Linked DNA regions of Homo sapiens: all the other regions are linked to region 1. The links come from fine-mapping of genetic effects on gene expression. A gene starts in region 1. Each other region holds a variant in brackets. All regions are shown on one strand. Distances are from middle to middle. Region 1 holds the start of LYSMD1 (LysM domain containing 1). Region 2 overlaps GABPB2 (GA binding protein transcription factor subunit beta 2). Region 3 overlaps GABPB2 (GA binding protein transcription factor subunit beta 2).

Region 1 (4,082 bases):
ATTACAGGGGTGAGCCACCATGCCTGACCCCTATTCGTTGTTAATACCTTTACAAACTCACCACATTCTGTCACTTGTAATCATTATTTGTGTCCCTGTTCATTTCTCATTAGGCCATAAATTACATGAGGACAGCAACCATATAGTTTAAGTTTCTATCTCCCAGAAAAGTTATCACAGTGCTTTAAATACAGCAAGCATAAAAATGTTGGCTAAATTCAACATTTGTTTGAGTGAGATGGAACAAGAAAACAGGGGCAGGGATAGGGGGAGTAACCCCATCAACTTCAATGCTGTACATTTTTACATCTATCCAATTTCCCCCATGCATGACCTGAAATACTTGGTGTAGAGTACCTGTTTTGCACAAAGGAGGCCACCTTACTGGAAAGAAGGCAGAGCATTGAGGAGGAACCAAGAGCAAGGAGAGGTGGGCACTTTAGGAACTGAGAACTAAAAATCAGCTCTCCATTAGTTGCTGTAAACGTTTAATCACTCTCAACATAAAATTTTCTGTGTGGTTAATAGAGTCAGACAGACCTGTTTGAATCCCAAATCTGACGCTCATTATTTGACCTTAGCCAAACTGGTTAACCAATCCAAGTCTCAGTTTCTTCATCTGCCAAAAGGGAACGATAAATGTATACTTGATACAGATGTGAGGGTGAAATGAGCTAACGTATGTGAAGCCCTCAGCACAGTGTCTGGCATAATAAAATAGGAGCTGTTCCTCTCCGTTGGAATAGTAGGGCAGGACTTGTGCAACACTGTGATGGGAAAACAAAGATAAAGGCAGAACAGAGTGCAACACATTAGGAACATTTCAGGGGAGGTTACCTAGAAGGGCCACTACATTCTTCTCAGGACTAAATCCCTCCTGACTGTTGTCTTCACCCCAATCCTGGAAAACTCACCGTCACCCCATATTTGAGTGCTAGTCCAGCCAGGGTGTCTCCGGGCTCCAACTGATGCTCCAGGCGTCTTTCCCTCACTGGGGAGCAGGCCGATTGCACCAGGCTTCCATATGAACGAGCCCGGCTCCCTTGAAGCAGTCCTGACCCCCCTGGCGGGGGCTGTCTAGACGGGGAAGCCATCTCTTCACCCTGCCAACAGCTAAGGTTGCAACTAGGGGAGGTACGACCGAGACTGCGACTGACAGGCCTGAAGTCTGGGAATGAATATTCAGGGGATTCCTTTCCCCCTCTCTCTTCCCCTGTGTCCCCGCCTCCCCAGCACTACGCCATCTGCCCCCTCCCGGTTTCTCCTCCCTCCAAGCTACTTATCCACAAATCTGTCCCTTGAGTATTCAGTCCCTCCCTAATTCTCCCCTAAGCACCCCTCCGACTTTGGACTCCCCCACAACTCCTCGCTACATTGACCTCTGACCTTTGAACTCTAGAAATAATCCTCAACACTCTTTCCTCAGTTTGCCCCCAAGTAGCCTGGCCTCAGGGCGCTCCAACATCCCAGCTCTCCCCGGTCCCGGGGTTTGTTTGCTAGAGTCAGGAACAAATCAGGCCCACCCCAGGTGAACTGTCGCCGCAGACGAAGAGCGTGAGGATTGCAAGAATTTGTAGTACACCTTCCACTCAGAGATCCTCAAAGGTCCGCTCCGCATAAGATAGGTCACACCCTCAAATTTCGGCTCCACATCTAGGTTGTTGTCCCTCCAAACGCCTCAGATCCGCCAAGATGCAAGGGCCTGGATCCAGTTGAGCGGCAAGGTCTTTGAGAAAAGACTTCATTTCCCAAAAGGCTCCGCGTCTGCGGAGTCGCAGGGCACCATAGGAAATGCAGTTCCCTCCGAGCACCAGAGAGTGGATTTCCGGATCGCGCAATGCATGCGTGGAAGTGCGTCCCCGGAAGTACGGAGGCCGACAGGAAGAGAAGGAAAAAAGAGAAGGCGCTGTCCCGCTCTTGCTACGGTGGCCTGGAGGAGTGGCGAAACCGGAACAGAGAATTTATCACTTCTGGGACTCACAGTCGTGATGTCTTTCAAGAGGGAAGGAGACGATTGGAGTCAACTCAATGTGCTCAAAGTAAGCGTGAGCGGAGAGGATCTGGAGCCGCTTCAGTCGCTCCCTGAAGGTTGGGAAGGAGCTTTGTTTCATTGCTCTGGCAACAACTCGGGGGTGCAGGAGAGAACCAGGCGACTTAGAGCTGTGTAGTGACTCCTTTTTCGGTCTATGATCGCTGTTCTCCCCAGGGTCCTTATTCCATTTCACTCCTCATTTCTATAATTTCACTTCCACCCCTCTCTCCTATCCCGCTGATCCCGTCCGGATTTCTTCCCCTACTCCCTGCAGAAAAGAAGAGTCGGGGACCTCCTAGCCAGTTACATTCCAGAGGATGAGGCGCTGATGCTTCGGGATGGACGGTAAGAGCAAGGAGTGGCTCAAGCCTGAGGGTTCTGCGGTTAGAGGCTCAATAGACTTTTTTTTTTTTTTCCTTTGAGACGGAGGTCTCGCGGTGCTGCCCAGGCTGCCCTCGAACTCTAGGGCTCAAGTGATCCTGCCTCCTCAGCGTCGCGATTAGCTGGGTTTACAAGCGCATGCCACCACGCCTGGCTTCAACAAACTTTTGTTATTAATTAGGACAGCAGGAGTACCTAGGATTCTTTGGCGGCCAGTGAGGACTGGAAGAAGTGGAGATTGGGTCACCAGGGAGTTGGGTTTTGCAAAGACTGCTAGGACAGGGTGGGACCTATGGCAGGGACGGGCCCAACCCTCTTCCCCTGGACCACTTATCCTCTTCTCTACCCCTGCTCAGCTTTGCTTGTGCCATCTGCCCCCATCGACCGGTACTGGACACCCTGGCCATGCTGACTGCCCACCGTGCAGGCAAGAAACATCTGTCCAGTAAGTTAGGGGGAAGACGGGATGGGGAATAAACCCTCGAAATCTCTGCACACCACTCTTGGTGCTATGCTTTTAATTCTGTTTCCCTTTCTCCTCAGGCTTGCAGCTTTTCTATGGCAAGAAGCAGCCGGGAAAGGAAAGAAAGCAGAATCCAAAACATCAGAATGAATTGAGAAGGGAAGAAACCAAAGCTGAGGTAATCAGAGAGTGGAGAGTGTGTTCTAGGCAAGACCCTGCTGCACACACCAGGCTGGAAGGGCGGAGGGCTGAAGGCTCTGACTCTGTCTCCCATCTCCTTACCAGGCTCCTCTGCTAACTCAGACACGACTTATCACCCAGAGTGCTCTGCACAGAGCTCCCCACTATAACAGTTGCTGCCGCCGGAAGTACAGGTATGGGACGGGAAAGCCAGAGGTAGGAAGGCTCAGAAGGAGACAGATGGCTCTAAAAGAGTTTTCCAGTGTGTATTCTGAGGAATACTAGTGTTCTGGAGATGTTACTTAGTGTTTCAAGAAAAGGAGAATTTTGGCTGGGCGCGGTGACTCACGCCTGTAATCCCAGCACTTTTGGAGGCTGAGGTGGGTGGATCACTTGAGGTCAGGAGTTCAAGACCAGCCTGGCCAACATGGTGAAATCCTGTCTCTACCAAAAATGTAAAAAATTAGCTGGGTGTGTGGTGTGTGCCTGTAATCCCAGCTACTCAAGAGGCTGAGGCAGGAGAATTGCTTGAATCCGGGAGACAGAGGTTGCAGTGAGCCACGGTCACACCACTTCACTCCAGCCTGGGTGACAGAGTGAGACTCCATCTCAAAAAAAAAAGAAAAGAAAGAAAAAGAAAAGGAGAATTTTGTGATTTTTAAATAAAGTTTGGGAAATGGCACTTTGTAATTCTACTTGAAGAATAACAGTTTTAAAAACTATACAAAGTCTTAAGATTAAAAAAAACTTGTAAAATTTTAAGCTAGCCTTTCCCAAATTCATGATTCTGAAATCCTTTGTATGCAGAACTTATTAATATCTTGAGAAATATAGTTTAAGAAGCACTGTTTTAAGAGGTTGGGAGTCATAGGAGAGTTGGCCCTTTCCCTTACTGCTTTTACAGACTATTCTTCTCTACCTAGACCAGAAGCCCCTGGTCCCTCTGTCTCCCTTTCCCCTATGCCACCCTCAGAGGTCAAACTCCAAAGTGGGAAGATCAGTAGGGAACCTGAACCTGCGGCTGGC
Region 2 (4,097 bases), 41 kb before region 1:
TTGGGAGGCCAAGGCAGGTGGATCACGAGGTCAGGAGATTGAGACCATCCTGGCTAACACAGTGAAACCCTGGCCCTACTAAAAATACAAAAAATTAGCCGGGCGTGGTGGTGGGTGCCTGTAGTCCCAGCTACTCGGGAGGCTGAGGCAGGAGAATGACGTGAACCCAGGAGGCAGAGCTTGCAGTGAGCTGAGATCGCCCCACTGCAACAGATCGCCTGGGCAACAGAATGAGACTCGGTCTCAAAAAATAAAATAAAATAAAATAAAATAAAATAAGTAAAGCTGCTGGCCAGACATGGTGGCTCACGCCTGTAATCCCAGCACTTTGGGAGGCCGAGATGGGAGGATCACTTGAGGCCAGGCCAGCGTGGTGAAACTCAGTCTCTACTAAAAATACAAAAATTAGCCGGGGGTGGTGGCGCATCATCATACTGGTGAGAAAAAAAAAAAAAAAAAAGAGGCCGGGCGCGGTGGCTCACAAAAAAAAAAAAAAGAAAGAAAAAGGAAAAAAAGAAATATCAGTTTGAGAAATGATTTTTTTTTCTTTTTTCTTTTCTTTTTTTTTTTTTAAACAGAGTCTCTCTCTGTCACCCAGGCTGGAGCGCAGTGGCATGATCTTGGCTCATTGCAACCTCTGTCTCCCGGGTTCAAGCGATTCTTCTGCCTCAGCCTCTGAAGTAGCTGGGATTACAGGCACGCGCTAATTTTTGTATTTTTAGTACAGACGGGATTTCACCATATTGGCCAGGCTGGTCTCGAACTCCTGACCTCGTGATCCACCCTCCTTGGCCTCCCAAAGTGCTGGGATTACAGGTGTGAGCCACCACGCCCAGCCTCTTTTTTTTTTTTTTTTTCTCACCAGTATGATGATGACCATTTTAAGAAAGCTTGTGTGGCTCTCTCCTATCATTACAGACCTCCAGAGCTGGAAAATTTGATGCATTTACTGAACTCTTCCTGAAAGTTTAATATGGAGTGGGAATCAGTTTTTGTCCTAATTTATTAGAGAAGGCTTCCTCTTCTCTACTCCTTGTGCAAACCCATCTCTGGATAGCTAGAAAAGGAACTTCAGAATGGACTATATGTGATGACCACCTGTATGCACTCTAGGCTCTTATCTGTCTCTATTTTATGTGGTGACTATATCTCAGAAGTACTACCCCTTCTGAGTAGTACTATTATTTCCTATGCCAATTTTTTTTAAGTCTCTGATGCTGCCCTTTTTAAATTTTTGTCTTATTTTTTAGCCTCTTTAGTATTAGGGGGTGAGGTGACATTCCTAGACTCTACAGTAGCAGTTTGGCATGTTAGTGACAGGAAATTGTGATTCCCTATCTCCCCCTCCTCCTACCTTTTCTGCTTTTGTGATTCCATTGTTCCTATCTCATTGAGGCTTTCCCAGGCATTCGAATTTAGTTAGTAGGTCATTTCTAATCTCTGGGCCTTGTCTTTTCTCTCTCCGTTCCCCTCCTTCCCTACCACATATTTTTTGTTTATTCTGAGGTGGTTTGTTTCTGAAAGTTAATCTAGGTCACCTTCTATATCCTGTGCTTTCTAGTTGGCTTTAGACATCTTGTTCTAGCAACAATGATGGTAGCAGCTCTCTCCCTGACCTTGCCCCATGTGCTGTCCTTCTGTCAAGGCCATTTGTGTGTGTACTGCGGCAGGTGTGTGTGTGGGGGGATGCGCCCAGACTGTTCTCACAATGTCCTCAGTTTTTCAGGTTGTCTGACAGCTTTATGTACAG[C/T]GTATTTTTAGAAAAACTTAAATATACTTCTTTATTTAGGGTTTTATTCTGATGAGCAAGTTTGTGTGTATATGTGTGTATGAGCATTTGTATGTATATATACTTATACAGATCTATATTATATATACAGTTTTTGTACTATCATTTAAAATAAAAATGTTTCTCAATAAAATGTCAAAGCCGACCATTTCAGGGTGTCATTGAATTTGTTTTCATCTCCTGGGCAAAATTTGTATCTATTCTCTTTTTTTTTTTTTTTTTTGAGACGGAGTCTCGCTCTGTCGCCCAGGCTGGAGTGCAGTGGCGGGATCTCGGCTCACTGCAAGCTCCGCCTCCCGGGTTCACGCCATTCTCCTGCGTCAGCCTCCCAAGTAGCTGGGACTACAGGCGCCCGCCACTACGTCCGGCTAATTTTTTTGTATTTTTAGTAGAGACGGGGTTTCACCGTTTTAGCCGGGATGGTCTCGATCTCCTGACCTCGTGATCCGCCCGCCTCGGCCTCCCAAAGTGCTGGGATTACAGGCGTGAGCCACCGAGCCCGGCCAAATTTGTATCTATTCTCTAATGACAGGTGAACCACAGAGCTCATTTTCCCTGTCCAACTGAGCTAACTGAAGGGGGAGGGGTATAGATCTACTAACCCATGCATGGCCATTGCCTTTTCCTTATCCACCGCTCTCAGCCTGGTATTCTTGACAGGCAGAGCAAGTTGAGGTAAGAAATGAAATGAGAATGAGGAGAGCTTTTGACCAGCTTGTTAAATGTACATTTTCCTTCTTTCTCTCATTCCCCACTCCCTTCCCTAAAAGCAAACAACCAAGGGAGGAGAAAAGTAGCTGAAGAAAATGATTATGTGCCTTGTGTGGGAGTAAAGTCAATACTGAGACGTATGGGGAAAAACATCAGACTCAGGAGTGCTTGGAAAGAGTAGATTTACTTTGCCAGCTTCTCAGCTATTCTTGGTTAATAGGGTGCTTGCTGCTATCTTAGTCCAAAATCAGCACACATTTATATTTAAAAATAGGAGGATCAGTCTGATAGTAGCACAATCCCCATTGATAGCCGGGGTGAACAGACCAATTTGACTAGCAAGATGGGTATCCTATCTAGTGTATAGAGTTCTGAAAAGCTGTTTTGTTGGCAAGAAGGATACCTTTCTTTACAAAATTAGCTTTGAGCCTGTCCAAAGCTAAGGACATATAAGCATCTGTGTTCAGCGACTGGAATCTCAAGTAAGTTCTCAAAGTCAATATTTAGGAAATTGGACACCTACCATGTACTAGGGTACATGTAGATAATTTCTTTTTGGTAAATACATATAGTCAGCAAATGCTGTGCACATATTCAAGTAATAGAAAGTAATTCTGGCAGGTACTTTATTAATATATATAGTCTTGGCTGTGCTGACAGAAAAAAAAGCAGGAACTTGTGGAGCCTTAAGAACCAAAGAACTAAAAATCTTGTTGAATTAAATCCTGGTGAGAGAAATCATCAAGATGGGAAAGTTGGAGGGAACTAGAGAGATAGGAACCTAGAGTTCTCTGATGGGTGATACTCTTTTTTTTTTTTTTTTTTTTTTGAGACAGAGTCTCACACTGTTGCCCAGGCTGGAGTGCGGTGGCATGATCTTGGCTCACTGCAGCCTCTGCCTCCCAGGTTCAAGTGATTCTCCTGCCTCAGCTTCCCTATTAGCTGGGATTACAGGCATGCACCACTACACTCAGCTAATTTTTGTATTTTTAGTAGAGACGGGGTTTCACCATGTTGGCCAGGCTGGTCTTGAACTCCTGACCTCAGGTGATCCACCCGCACTGGCCTCCCAAAGTGCTGGGCTTACAGGTGTGAGCCACCGTGCCCGGCTGGGTGATAGTCTTAAGTAATGGGAAAAATTATGAACTAGGGCAACTTTCCTAAGACTTCCTTCCTCTGTAAAAAAGAACCCTCTACTCCAAGGAGATCAATAGGTAAAAAATACAGGTGAAGGCTGAAGTGGGAGCAACCCAGTGATAACTACACCTGTGTAAGGCTTGTGCAAGACATTTGATAGGTAATTGAGTAAGTTAAGACTATGGGAGACTTCTGAACAAAAGTGTGGGGTTGCAGTCTGCTCCTATAACCAGTCCTAAAGTTTAAGGGTAGTGCTGTAAAGGAAAGGAAAGTTTGGGAAAGGGCCCAAAATTATAAATAACAATAGCCACCATGTTTTAAGCTTTTGCTACATGTCTGGCAATGTGCTAGGTACTCTGCATATACATATAAATACCCATCTTGTAAGGTGAGTATTATCCTCATCATATAGTTGTAAAAATAGGTTGACTTTGCAGAGTCACACACTTGTAAAAATTGT
Region 3 (4,097 bases), 89 kb before region 1:
GCGAGCCGAGATCGTGCCACCGCACTCCAGTCTGGGCGACAGAGTGAGACAGTCTCAAAAAACAAAACAAGGGCCAGGCGCAGTGGCTCATGCCTGTAATCCCAGCTCTTTGGGAGGCTGAGGCGGGCAGAGGTCAGGAGATCAAGACCATCCTGGCTAACACGGTGAAACTCCATCTGTACTAAAAATACAAAAAATTGGCCGGGCACGGTGGCTCATGCCTGTAATCCCAGCACTTTGGGAGGCCCAGGAGGGCAGATCACGAGGTCAGGAGATCGAGACCATCCTGGCTAACATGGTGAAACCCCATCTCTACTAAAAATACAAAAAATTAGCCGGGCATGGTGGCGGGCGCCTGTAGTCCCAGCTACTCGGGAGGCCGAGGCAGGAGAATGGCGTGAACCCAAGAGGCGGAGCTTGCAGTGAGCCGAGATTGTGCCACTGCACTCTAGCCTGGGCGACAGAGCGAGACTTTGTCTCAAAAAAAAAAAAAAAAAAAAAAAAAAATTTAGCCAGGTGGGAGACTGGGACAGGAGAATCGCTACAACCTGGGAGGCGGAAGTTGCAGCGAGCTGAGACTGCACCACTGGACTCCAGCCTAGGCAACAGAGCGAGACTTCATCTCAAAAAAACCCCCCCCAAAAAAACCCAAAAAAACACAAAACAAAACAAAAAAAGAATGCCTTAATGGGAATGCAGCCCAGTAGGTCTCAGCCTTATTTCACCCAACTCCTATGCAAGATGGAGTTGCTCTGGTTCAAACACCTCTGACATTTCTCCCATCCCTTTTATTAGAGAACCCTTAATCCTAGGGGTTACAAAGAAATAAAGATCCATCTTCTGTAACTTTTTCAGGGTGAATAGGGGCGATGATATTCCTGCCTGACTCTTAGGGTCTCTTGTATTCAGGGTTCAGAGAGGAGCTCAGTCAGAAAGCATCAGTATGGTGAGAGCTATTCATAACTCCAACAAAAGGTGATATCTGGAAGATTAAAAGGTGTTCAGTTTAAGAAAACATTCAGTAAGCTTATCCTGCATTCCTACACAAAGAGTACAACAGCAATATACTCCTCAACAGTAAAGCAAAATAAGCAAAACTATCCCAAGTAAATTAAATAAGAAGGTTTTCCATGAACTGGGCAACTGTTGGAACCAAGCTGATTTGGGGTTACTAGCTGATTCCAGTATGTGCCCAGAATTAGAATATTGATCCAGATTTTTACATTACCCATTCCTTTTGTTTCTTGTGAGCAGCAGCCAGAGATCACTGGTTGGTTCACAGGAATAAGCAGAGTTAATCTAAGTTGCAGAAAAAAACTTAAAAACAACTGATGAGACTAGAATTTTTATTTTTTTTATTTTTTGAGACAGAGTCTTATTCAGTCACCTAGGCTGGAGTGCAGTGGCACAATCTTGGTTCACTGCAAGCTCTGCCTCCTGGGTTCAAGCAATTCTCCTGCATCAGCCTCCGGAGTAGCTGGGATTACAGGCATATGCCACCACGTCCGGCTAATTTTTGTATTTTTAGTAGAAACGGGCTTTCACCATGTTGGCCAGGCTGGTCTCGAACACCTGACCTCAGGTGATCCACCCGCCTCAGCCTCCCAAAGTGCTGGGATTACAGGTGTGAGCCACTGTGCCTTGCCAGTCTCCCATTTTTACTAAAGGCAAATCATGGTAAAATAGATTGGCTTTATTAAACTTGGTCTGATTTTTTTTTTTTTTTTTGAGATGGAGTCTCACTCTGTCGCCCAGGCTGGAGTGCAGTGGCGCAATCTCGGCTCACTGCAAGCTCCACCTCCTGGGTTCATGCCATTCTCCTGCCTCAGCCTCCCGAGTAGCTGGGACTACAGGTGCCTGCCACCACACCCGGCTAATTTTTTGTATTTTTAGTAGAGACGGGGTTTCACTGTGTTAGCCAGGATGGTCTCAATCTCCTGACCTCGTGATCC[G/A]CCCTCCTGGGCCTCCCAAAGTGCTGGGATTACACTTGGTCTGATTATTTGTATAAAGTGCAGCAAGAATAATGATTTTTCACATAGGCTTTTTAAATTGGCTTTGAAAGAACTTTGTTCCGTAAAAGGAATCTCACATAAGACTTACAAAGCCAATTAAAGCCCGTTGGGAAAACTGGCCTCATACCTTGTCTAAAGTCCCTGTACAGGGTTCCTGATCTGTGGTAAGTAAAGAGTGTCACTTTCTGACTTTCTGACAGGCCCAGGAGCCCCACATTATCCTGGGACCTCAGGAGGGGAGGAATTTATCCAACTCATAGGTTTTTTTTTTTTTTTTTTTGAGATGGAGTCTCACTCTCTCACCAGGCTGGAGTGCAGTGGCGCAATCTCGGCTCACTGCAGCCTCTACCTCCCGGATTCAAGTGATTCTTCTGCCTCAGCCTCCTGAGTAGCTGGGACTACAGGCATGCAACACCACGCCCAGCTAATTTTTGTATTTTTAGTAGACACAGGGTTTCACCATGTTGGCCAGAATGGTCTTGTTCTCTTGACCTTGTGATCCGCCGCGCCCGGCCACTCATAGGTATTTGAGGGTATAAACCCATGGCTGGGCTCAGCTTTAAAAAAAAAAGAGAGGCCAGGCGCAGTGGCTCACGCCTGTAATCCCAGCACTTTGGGAAACCGAGGCAGGTGGATCACAAGGTCAGGAGTTCAAGACCAGCCTGACCAACATGGTGAAACCCTGTCTCTACTAAAAATACAAAAATTAGCCGGGCATGGTGGCACGTGCCACCTAATCCTAGCTATTCAGAAGGCTGAGACAGGAGAATCGCTTGAACCCAGGAGGCTGAGGGTGCAGTGAGCCAAGATCACACCATTGCACTCCAGCCTGGGCAACAGAGCAAGACTCAGTCTCAAAAAATAATAATTTTCTTTAGAATAATAAAAATAAAGGCCGGGCACGGTGGCTCACGCCTGTAATCCCAGCACTTTGGGAGGCTGAGGCAGGTGGATCCCCTGAAGTCAGGAGTTCAAGCCTCGCCTGACCAACATGGTGAAATCCTGTCTCTACTAAAAATACAAAATTATCCAGTTGTGGTGGCACGAGCCTGTAGTCCGAGCTACTCAGGAGGCTGAGACAGGAGAATTGCTTGAACCTGAGAGGTGGAGGCTGCAGTGAGCCGAGATCACACCACTGCACTCCAGCCTGGGTGAGACAGAGTGAGACTTCAACTCGAAAAAAAAAAAAAAAGAGTAAGAATAAAAATTCATTTTACACTGGGCGCGGTGGCTCACGCCTGTAATCCCAGCACTTTGGGAGGCCAAGGCGGGCGGATCACGAGTTCAGGAGATCGAGCCCATCCTGGCTAACACGGTGAAACCGTGCTTCTACTAAAAATCCAAAAAATTAGCCGGGCATGGTGGCGGGTGCCTGTAGTCCCAGCCACTCAGGAGGCTGAGGCAGGAGAATGGCATGAATCCGGGAGACGGAGCTTGCAGTGAGCCGAGATCGCGCCACTGCACTCTAGCCTGGGCCACAGAGCAAGACTCCGTCTCAAAAAAAAAATAGAAAAAAAAATTCATTTTACTTTTTCTTTTTTTGTTTTTGTTTGTTTGTTTGTTTGAGACAGTCTCGCTCTGTTACCCAGGCTGGAGGGCAGTGGCACAATCTTGGCTCACTGCAACCTCTGCCTCCCAGGTTCAAGTGATTCTCCTGCCTCAGCCTCCTGAGTAGCTGGGAGTACAGGCGTGCACCACCACACCTGGCTAATTTTTGTATTTTTAGTACAGGCGGGGTAGTAAAATTTTGTATTTTAGTAGGGGCGGGATTTCACCATGTTGGCCAGGCTGGTCTCCAACTCCTGCCCTCAAGTGACCCGCCTGCCTCTGCCTCCCAAAGTGCTGGGATTACAGTCGTGAGCCACTGTGCCTGGCTACATTTTACTTTTTCTTAAGATGGATGCTTCAGGTTAACTCAAAAGAGTAACTGAGGATAGGAGGAGAAAATAGCCTTGAAGAACGCATTTCTATATCTTTCTTATATTAGGAGGTAAATATAGCACCCTATTTACATTCTAATCCCAAAGTTTAATTATATCTCTATATAGTAAGAAATAGGGCTTTAAAATCATGGCTTGTTGAAAG

The links. PIP is the estimated chance that this variant, and not a neighbour inherited with it, causes the effect.
Region 2: its variant is the best candidate, but not a certain one, in a credible set for the expression of LYSMD1 in tibial artery (GTEx, PIP 0.68).
Region 3: its variant is the best candidate, but not a certain one, in a credible set for the expression of LYSMD1 in whole blood (INTERVAL, PIP 0.55).

Annotation. Positions count from the first base shown.
Region 1 is chr1:151,164,165-151,168,246 of GRCh38, forward strand. LYSMD1 (LysM domain containing 1) reads right to left here and starts at 1,738. Exons shown (of 3, transcript NM_212551.5): 1 at 915-1,738. The coding sequence starts at 1,094. It overlaps TNFAIP8L2-SCNM1 (TNFAIP8L2-SCNM1 readthrough), which reads left to right. Exons shown (of 7, transcript NR_144937.2): 2 at 2,307-2,377; 3 at 2,770-2,858; 4 at 2,957-3,054; 5 at 3,162-3,250; 6 at 3,985-4,082. SCNM1 (sodium channel modifier 1) reads left to right here and starts at 1,980. Exons shown (of 7, transcript NM_024041.4): 1 at 1,980-2,039; 2 at 2,307-2,377; 3 at 2,770-2,858; 4 at 2,957-3,054; 5 at 3,162-3,250; 6 at 3,980-4,082. The coding sequence starts at 1,989. RefSeq lists enhancers at 1,220-1,925, 1,679-1,958, 1,926-2,632, 1,979-2,028.
Region 2 is chr1:151,123,609-151,127,705 of GRCh38, forward strand. GABPB2 (GA binding protein transcription factor subunit beta 2) reads left to right here. Exons shown (of 9, transcript NM_144618.3): 9 at 1-1,934. Among named protein-coding and RNA genes, the nearest start is that of SEMA6C, 21 kb to the right of the region's middle. The variant C/T (reference allele first, on the strand shown) is at 1,751.
Region 3 is chr1:151,075,084-151,079,180 of GRCh38, forward strand. All of the region lies in intron 1 of GABPB2 (GA binding protein transcription factor subunit beta 2), which reads left to right. Among named protein-coding and RNA genes, the nearest start is that of GABPB2, 6.4 kb to the left of the region's middle. The variant G/A (reference allele first, on the strand shown) is at 1,953.